Linked DNA regions of Homo sapiens: region 2 is reported to be linked to region 1. The links are microRNA targets in miRTarBase. Many come from high-throughput screens and were not tested one by one. Region 1 holds a microRNA gene; the other region holds the end of a gene's coding sequence.
What was found. Region 1 holds the annotated microRNA hsa-miR-4533 (UGGAAGGAGGUUGCCGGACGCU, at 2,545-2,566, opposite strand). A microRNA usually pairs through its seed, bases 2 to 8, with sites in the 3' UTR of a target mRNA and lowers its output. Matches are read on the target gene's strand: a 7mer-m8 pairs with bases 2 to 8, a 7mer-A1 pairs with bases 2 to 7 and ends in A, and an 8mer does both.

Region 2: the mRNA of RPL35A is a reported target of hsa-miR-4533. Seed matches in the 3' UTR shown: 7mer-m8 at 3,155-3,161.

What each region holds. Positions count from the first base shown.
Region 1 is chr20:60,476,537-60,480,684 of GRCh38, reverse strand. MIR4533 (microRNA 4533) reads right to left here and starts at 2,574; the gene lies at 2,504-2,574. It overlaps LOC124904944 (a long non-coding RNA gene), which reads right to left. Exons shown (of 2, transcript XR_007067683.1): 2 at 1-4,148.
Region 2 is chr3:197,955,357-197,959,356 of GRCh38, reverse strand. RPL35A (ribosomal protein L35a) reads right to left here. Exons shown (of 5, transcript NM_000996.4): 5 at 2,747-3,607. The coding sequence ends at 3,584. All of the region lies in intron 2 of DRC9 (dynein regulatory complex subunit 9), which reads left to right. Among named protein-coding and RNA genes, the nearest start is that of DRC9, 2.6 kb to the left of the region's middle. RefSeq lists an enhancer at 1-363.

The DNA of each region.
Region 1 (4,148 bases):
AGTCAAGTGGTCAGGGAAAATGATCATTTATTCTGTTGAATTTCTTCAGAATGAATTCTGGGATAGATCAAACAAAAAAGTTATAAAATAGGAATTATAGATAATGAATGCCTGCTTGTTGCAAAGGAATTTGACTTACTTCACGCATAATTAAAGCAGGTGAGGTCAGGGTTGAGCTTGGGGTGATTTTAGCAGGAATCTCTGTATCCTGTTCATGGAGCAAGAGTAACACTTTGCTTATTTTGTAAGGATTTGTGATTGAAATGACTGACATTAAAAGCCTTTCATTAATATGTCATGGTGAGTAAACATCAGTGTAAGCCAGCAGAATAGTGACCAGTGGCTTCACGTTTTGATCTCCTGAGGTAGAAGTTATTTGTCCCCTCCACTACCTTCTTGAGAATCCTCTGTTGCCTTGGTTGTCTTAGGCTATGACATCAATTTGTGAGTACAGGGCTGTCCCATGTTCTAAGGTTGTTATTTTCCCAAGGAGACTATAGAGCTTGGCCAACTTTAGAACAGCATGTATCTATCCATTTAGGAGGCAGAGCCAGGTGGGGAGGCAGGATGGGTAGGGCGGTTCCGTGAGCATGCAGGGTCCTAACCTACTGGGTAAATTCAATCCTGCAGGTGCTTTCACTTCACCAATGTGAGCAGATTGTAGGTCTAGAGCTGGGGGAGAGAAATAAGGGTGATTTGAAAGGACCCAAAATGTCATTTAGATAGGGGGGTGGGCGCAGAGAAGCTCAGGGAGTTATCCCACAACATAGTCATTATGGTGAATAACAATGTATTGGATACTTGAAAATTGCTAAGAGAGTAGGTAAGTGTTCTCACTAGACACCCACACACAAAGATATATATGTAAAGTAATGCCCATGTCAATCACCTTGGTTTGCTCATCCCACAATGTTATGCATAGATGGAAATACTTTGTCCACTATCAATACATACAACTGTATTTGTCTAAATAAATACAGTAATGGTAAAGAGTCCAGGCTTTTCTGACGTTCAGAGAGATCTGGGTTTGAATCTTGAGCTTACAATATTCAAGTTGTGTAATCTTGAACATAACCTCTCTGACCTTTCGTTTTTTCCCCTGGGATATGGAGACACTGATTCCTGCTGTATAGCATTGATGAGAGGAAGAAGTAAGATGATGAAGGAAAGTGCTTATCACTTTGCTGATGGGAGTAGGGGGAAACTTACTAAAAGACAGCTACTCTTGCAATTCTAATAATCATCAAACCAGATTTCTTCCAAAGTATCAGATGCTTCCTGGGTGTGCTGTGCCCTGCTGACCTTAGAAAATATGAATATCATTTCAGATTGCTGGTGACATTGAAGACACCACGGTGCACAGCACAGGAGCGCCACACAATCTTCCAGAGTCATGCGTGGGTCTGGCTGAGGCAGCCATACAGAAGGCAAACCTCCGCTCCAGCACTTCTGCCCAACTCGGCCATGCTGGGGCAGGCAGTGCTGAGACCTCAGAGCAGCTGCCATGACAGCACCTGAGGAGCACAGGAGGAGTACCTGGGTGCGAGTCCAGAGGCTGCCCCTTAGGCCAGGACCCTCTCGGGCACGTTTCCTCATTCGTGCAGCAGGGAGAGCTCAGGGGCCCACATCACAGGGCTGTCTTAACTAGGGTGCTGGGATGCATGTGGAGGGCTTTGCACTGTGTTGGTAAAAGTACAAGATCATTCAAATAAGCACTGCCATTGTTGTAAAAATCCTTAAAGTTGCTCTGAAGCCTTTCAGAAATGCTGGCAAAGCAGCAAGCCCCTAAGCCTCTGAAATTCCTTTTCTCCATTAACCAGCTTGGAGGGGCTGCAACATGGATGATGGAAGAGGGAGTGTCATGCAGTCACAGGGCCCTTTCTCCTGGGCAGGACGGGGAGAATGCCGGGGATGCCTGGCTGGCCGTCACAGCCTGGGATGCTGCCTCTGGAAAAGATGCAAGTCATGGGCTTCAGATGCTGAGAACAGCTGACTGTGGCCTCCTTTGAATCGCTTTGGTCCCAACTCCAACGTGAGTGATAAGATGCTCTAAAGCTCTTGGCATCCAGGGACTCTCTCATCGACAAACAACGGAACCCCCAGCTCAAAGTGCCTGAAACACCAGGGCAGTTATCTGCCTAGTCCTCCTGGAAGTCCAGCAGGTGGGCACGCTTCACATCTGACATCATCTGCCCGTACCGGCTCCACCTCCCACAGGGCTGCATGTGCAGCCTCCACCAGCAAGACACTCAGCCACAGCATCTCTGTGCCTAAACAAGCAGCACAGTCAAAAGCAGAGAGTGAACGTGACCTTGTGCCAAAACTCAGGCACCTTCTTGTCTGATGAATTCTCACTGCTAACCTTTCCTTATCGCTGTTTGACCTGCAGAGATCTTTTTTGCATTTTCTAAACCAAGGCCACCATTGGAACTAGCATGGTCAGCTTCCCCGGCAGCACAGAGACCTCAGGCCTGGGGACCAAACACACGACGGAGCTGTGTCAGGAGAGAGAGAAAGGGAAGTGGACGCTGGAAGGCAGCCAGCAGCGTCCGGCAACCTCCTTCCACATTCTCATGACGAGTTTCGTGTTCGGATTGCAGGTAGTTCAAAGCAAGGGGCTGCTTTCTTCAACTAAGTCATTTTAAATTAAGTCCATAAAGTGAATATAAATGTTTTATTTCATTGTGACAGGCTGTCAGTAAACTTAAGGAGTAAATTTGATGGCGGATTTTTTGTTGTTGTTGTTCTTATATATTTTTTGGCATCTCCTCACAGAAGCATAAACAATTCTCTTTGTACTGGCCCCATACAGCCTTTTTCCAAGGGAAATCTAACATCTAGAGGCACACAGGATTTTCAGCCCTAGCAAAACAACTCCAGCATCCTCACCGTACATCAAAGAGAGACAGCCTGGTTCTCATGGCCAGGAAGGTTAGTCACAATATTACGAAAAGTAACGATTAAGTGCTACACAGTAGATGGAGGCCCTGGAAATTCATCACCCAACAAACAAAACACTTTTAATTGTCAGACTTTTCTCTATGCTTCCTAAATAGGAGTTAGTCCTAGAGAGCTGTGGTCTGGGGAGAGGAGTAGGCAGAGATGGGCAGGGTTTAAGAATCACAGTGGCTTATGCCTGTAAGCCCAGTAGTTTGGGAGGCCAAGGTGGGAGGATTGCTTGAGCTCAGGAGTTGAAGGCCAGCCTGGGCAACATAGGGAGACCCCTGTCTCTATAAAAAAAAGAAAAAAATTTAGCCAGGCCTGGTAGCACATGCCTGTAGTCCCAGCTAGTCCAGAGGGTGAGGTGGGAGGATTGCTTGAGCCCTGGAGGTTGAGGCTATCTATAGTGAGCTGTTATGGAGTCACTGCTCTCTAGCCTGGGAGACAGAGTGAGATCCCATTTCAAAAGAAAAAGAAGGTGTTTTACAGAGGTTCCTCACTTTCTTTTAGAGAAACACTGACATTTCAGAAGTTGTTCAGAAAACATTTCAGGGAGGAGACACAGGAAATGCCCAGGTATACTGTAAGAGAGGCTTCCCACTGAAACTTACATGGCACTACGTGACCAGGCTCTGTGGCCTGATTCCATGTCCAGCAAGGCTGGGTGCTGACTCATCCCTGCCATGGATGTATACCTTGAAGAGATGCCATCAGAAATCTGGCCACCTTTTTTAAAGGAGATACCACTTGGCTTGGATTATAACCCACAGAACAGGCTTCAGGGCTAGTGCCCTCAAAGCCAGTCTCTCAGAGCCCCAAGGTGCTCCTCCATCCCCAGTGCCCCTCCCATCTGCTCCCACTTAGCACCTCAGTTGCCTCTGCCAACTGTCCATGCCTTCTTCAAATGTTCTCCGTCCTTGGCATCTACACCCTGGTACCCGTCTCAGTGCCTCTGTGAACACAGACACAGCTGAACAGCATCATGTTCATGCTCTAGGCTCCCCTTGATGCCAGACTCTCGGATTCCATCTCTGCCTCTCTAATCAGAGAGGCTCTCTCCTGCCTCTGCTTAGCCTTCTCCTCATCCTCAGGTGACACCAGCCCCCTTACCTTCCATTGTTTGCATGTCTGCTCTCCCATTGATCACAACGGCCTTGAAGGTGCAAGCTCAATCTGTTTCTCACAGGCCCAGTGTGCTGGAGTAGAGT
Region 2 (4,000 bases), not on the chromosome of region 1:
CCAAACCACATTTGTAACTTAGGAAACGTGCCCTTTCCACTACAATACCACAAATAAATTGCTATTGTGAATAAAGAATGGAACCAGTCATCCTAAGCTCCTGGCTGTAACAATAGTGTTATGCTGAGGAAAGGCTGTTTCTTTTTTTTTTGAGACGGAGTTTCACTCGTCGCCCAGGCTGGAGTGCAGTGACACAATCTCGGCTCAATGCAACCTCTGCCTCCCGGGATCAAGCTATTCCCCTGCCTCAGCCTCCCGAGTAGCCGGGATTACAGGCACCCGCCACCACGCCCGGCCAATTTTTATGTTTTTAGTAGAGACGTAGTTTCACCACGTTGGCCAGGCTGGTCTCAACCTCATGACCTCAGGTGATCCGCCCGCCTCCGCCTCCCAAAGTGTTGGGATTACAGGCGTGAGCCACCGCGCCCAGCCAGGAGGCAAAGCTGTTTCAATGGTGTAGTGGACAAGTTACCAGCCACGCAAGCCCTTTCCTGTAAACCACAGGACTCCTCCTTTGGCAACGGTGACTTGAGTACTTTTGACTTAATTTCCATATGGGAGGAGAAAAACATAAAAACATACATTTATTATTTACAAATGCTGCATCATCTCAGTAAGGAAGAGCATGTATTTGCTTTTGAGTCTCATTTGCCATTGCACATGTAAGTTACTCGAGTTAAAGTCTCAACCGTTTGTTTTCCCCCGCTTTGCTCAGATGCCTACCACTTACCGTGTGTCTGTTCCACTCAGAATACCATCCACTTCTCCATATGCCTAACCCAGACCTGAAATACCCATCTGTCTTCATGGATATGTCCACAGGTTAACATCTTACAGCTTCCTCAAATTCAACTTTAGCTCCTCCCACAAAACCATCTCCTGATTCCCCAACTTTGTAAATGCACCATTATCCATCCAGCCCCCAAAGCCAGAAACATGTTAGAATTCTCCATTTGAGACTGAAAAGCCCACCTAATTTTCCCTTGTTTATGCTGGGATGCCATTGGGATTTGAAATAATCTGAGCTGGTGGCTCATATCTGTAATCCCAGTACTTTAGGAGAACAAGGCAGGGGGATCACTTGAGGCCAGGAATCGAGACCAGCCTGGGACCCCGAAAAAACATTTTAATTGGCTGGACGTGCCTGGCATGCACCAGATTCTCTGGAGGTTGTGGGCAGGGGATTGTCTGAGCCTAGAAGTTCAAAGGTGCAGTGAGCTATGATCACACCACTGCACTACAGGCTGGGCAACAGAAACCCTGTCTCAAATGAGTAAATTTTAAAATTTCCTGTGAATCAAGTTCTTCAGTGACGTTGTATTACACTCAAGAACAATCTTAAGCCTAAGATCCTCAGTTCAGTACAGGAGACCTCTCATGTGGCATTTTAGTTTTCTGGACTTTCCAGTCAGCCACTTGTGTTCCTAAAATCTTCCTGCCATTTCCTCTTTGAGATGCCGCCCTATTTCTTCCTCTACACTTTACGGTTTTATGTTACGCAGCCAGTATACCTACATGCCTCTATCCCTGAATACCCCGAGTACTACTGATCACATCTACTTAACTGGCACAATGAACACAGTAGGTACTTTTAGCTTATGTTGGCCTTTTGGAGTGGGTGTCCAAGATCAGCACTTCCTCGCGCTGACTGCGTAATTCCCAAGTTCAATTTCATTAGCATTCTAATATACAACTTCCAACTTCCGGCCTTGAAGTACTGCTCACTTCTGGTGAATACAGCATCAGTGCACTTTGTTTGCCTTAAAACCACAATCCTGGGAGGCTGAGACAGAATGGCGTGAACCCGGGAGGCGGAGCGTGCAGTGAGCCAAGATTGCGCCACTGCACTCCAGCCTAGACGACAGAGCAAGACTGTCTCAAAAAAAAAAAAAAAAAAACCACCACAATCCTAATAAATGAGCCTGGCAGAGTACTAACACAAGCCCATGTCCACGAAGCACGGGACTCCAACAATGGCAGCTTTGGCTTGCATACCACCATTGGACTGACCAAACCTTTCTTAGAACTGCCAGTGTGACAGAGGGACCTCTGGGGGAGGGCGTCTTGCTTTCTCTTGGGTCAGTATATCTCACTACCCTCTTTGTAGGTTAGCAGATTTGTAACAGGATGTTACTGGAGGAAGGGGAAGTGGGAAAGCTGGACAGTATTCCCACTCTTTTCCCTTACTACAAAAACTTTCCTTCTCAGTCCTGTCTCCAGGAGATGGAAGACCAAATAACACAACAGCCAGTGTGCTTTTCCTACCCAATCCTTTCTTTCACCCTCTTATCCTAATACATTTCCAGCATGTTAATTCTTTTGCAGCATAGACAAGAGAACCCATACACGCTGCAAAACTGCAAAAGGGCTTAGGTGGCAAACTCCCAGTTTCTTGTTGACATTTTCAGTGCAATTTAAAGATGTTAATTTAAAAAACTACCTGTGCTGTAGAGATCAGTAACCCTCAGGGGGCAGACAAAAAGACTGTTACTGCATCAGTTAGAAATGTAGTACTACCTGGGCAACATAGTGAGGCCCATCTCCACAAATAACTAAAAAGTTAACTGGTTGTGGCTGCACATGCCTGTGGCCCCAGCTATTTAGGAGGCTGAGGCAGGAGGTTTGCCTGAGCCGAGGAGGTTGAGGTTGAGGTTGCAGTAAGCTGTAATCACGCCACTGCACTCCAGCCCAAGCAACAAAACAAGACCTTGTCTTCAAAAAAAAAAAAAAAACCATACAGCAAAACTGATGCCTTAGTTGTTTTATTTTAGCATATCCCCAAGAAATCTAAAATATTTAGGAGGCCTGCTTAAAGTGCAATCTTGAACTTTACCAGATTAAAACATGAAGCCAAAGAAAGCTGCCACCTTTCCGTGCACTATTCCCAACCTCCATGTACCTACCATAGGATTGCTTTTTATGAGTGGAGTAATATGGCTTAATTTTATTTTAATATACTGGAATGCTTTGTCCAGTCACAAGTCCCAAGAGCTTCTCATCCCAGTCTATCCAAATGAACTGCCAAAGCCCATCAACATAATCTCCATTCAAATTTTAAGTTTCCCAATCTGCATTGAACAAATGCATAGTATCACAAAGCACTTGGCAGGTGTGGTGGCTCATAACTGTATCCCAGCACTTCAGGAGAGGCCAAGGAAGGAGGATTGCTTGAGCCCAGGAGTTTGAAGCCAGCATAGGCAAGAGTCAGACCCTCTCTACAAAAAATTTAAAAATGACCCAGGGATGGTGGCATGAGCCTGTGGTCCCAGCTACTTCAAAGGCCAAGGGAGGATTGCTTGAGCCTTTGAATGTGAGGCTGCAGCGAGCACCACTACACTCCAGCATGGGCAACAGAGCAAGACTCTGTCAAAGATACTCGCATTAAAACCCGTTCCCTTCTAAATCTCTGTACTCGCCCTGTAATTTTCATCACATGTCTCTCTGACCCCCTTGTACTCCAAAAATGCTGAGCAACCTCTATCATTTTAAGCATGTAGCAAATCAATTTAAGGTAGTAAGTTTTTTAATCCACTTAAAAATACAAGAGCACAAATCCACATTTATTTATTGATTTTTCGTTAGTTTAAATCCTTGAGGGGTACAGCATCTGCAGGGAAAAAAGAACACAAAACATTAGGTGAATGTTATATATACGTCTACAAATCAAGAACCGTAATACGGATAAATCTCTGAAAGGCTACCAATTACATGTTCTAGTGGTAAGGAAAGTTTTTATAGCCTTCAGTCTCTACGTGAACATACCGTAAGAACCGGCACTCATAAAAAACATGTACTGGCCAGGTGCTGTGGCTCACACCTGTAATCCCATCACTTTGGGAGGCCTAGGCGGGCAGATCCTAAGGTCAAGAGATAGAGACCATCCTGGCCAACATGGTAAAACCCTGTCTCTACTAAAAAATACAAAAATCAGCTGGGCATGGTGGTACGTGCCTATAGTCCCAGCTACGCAGGAGGCTGAGGCAGGAGAATCGCTTGAACC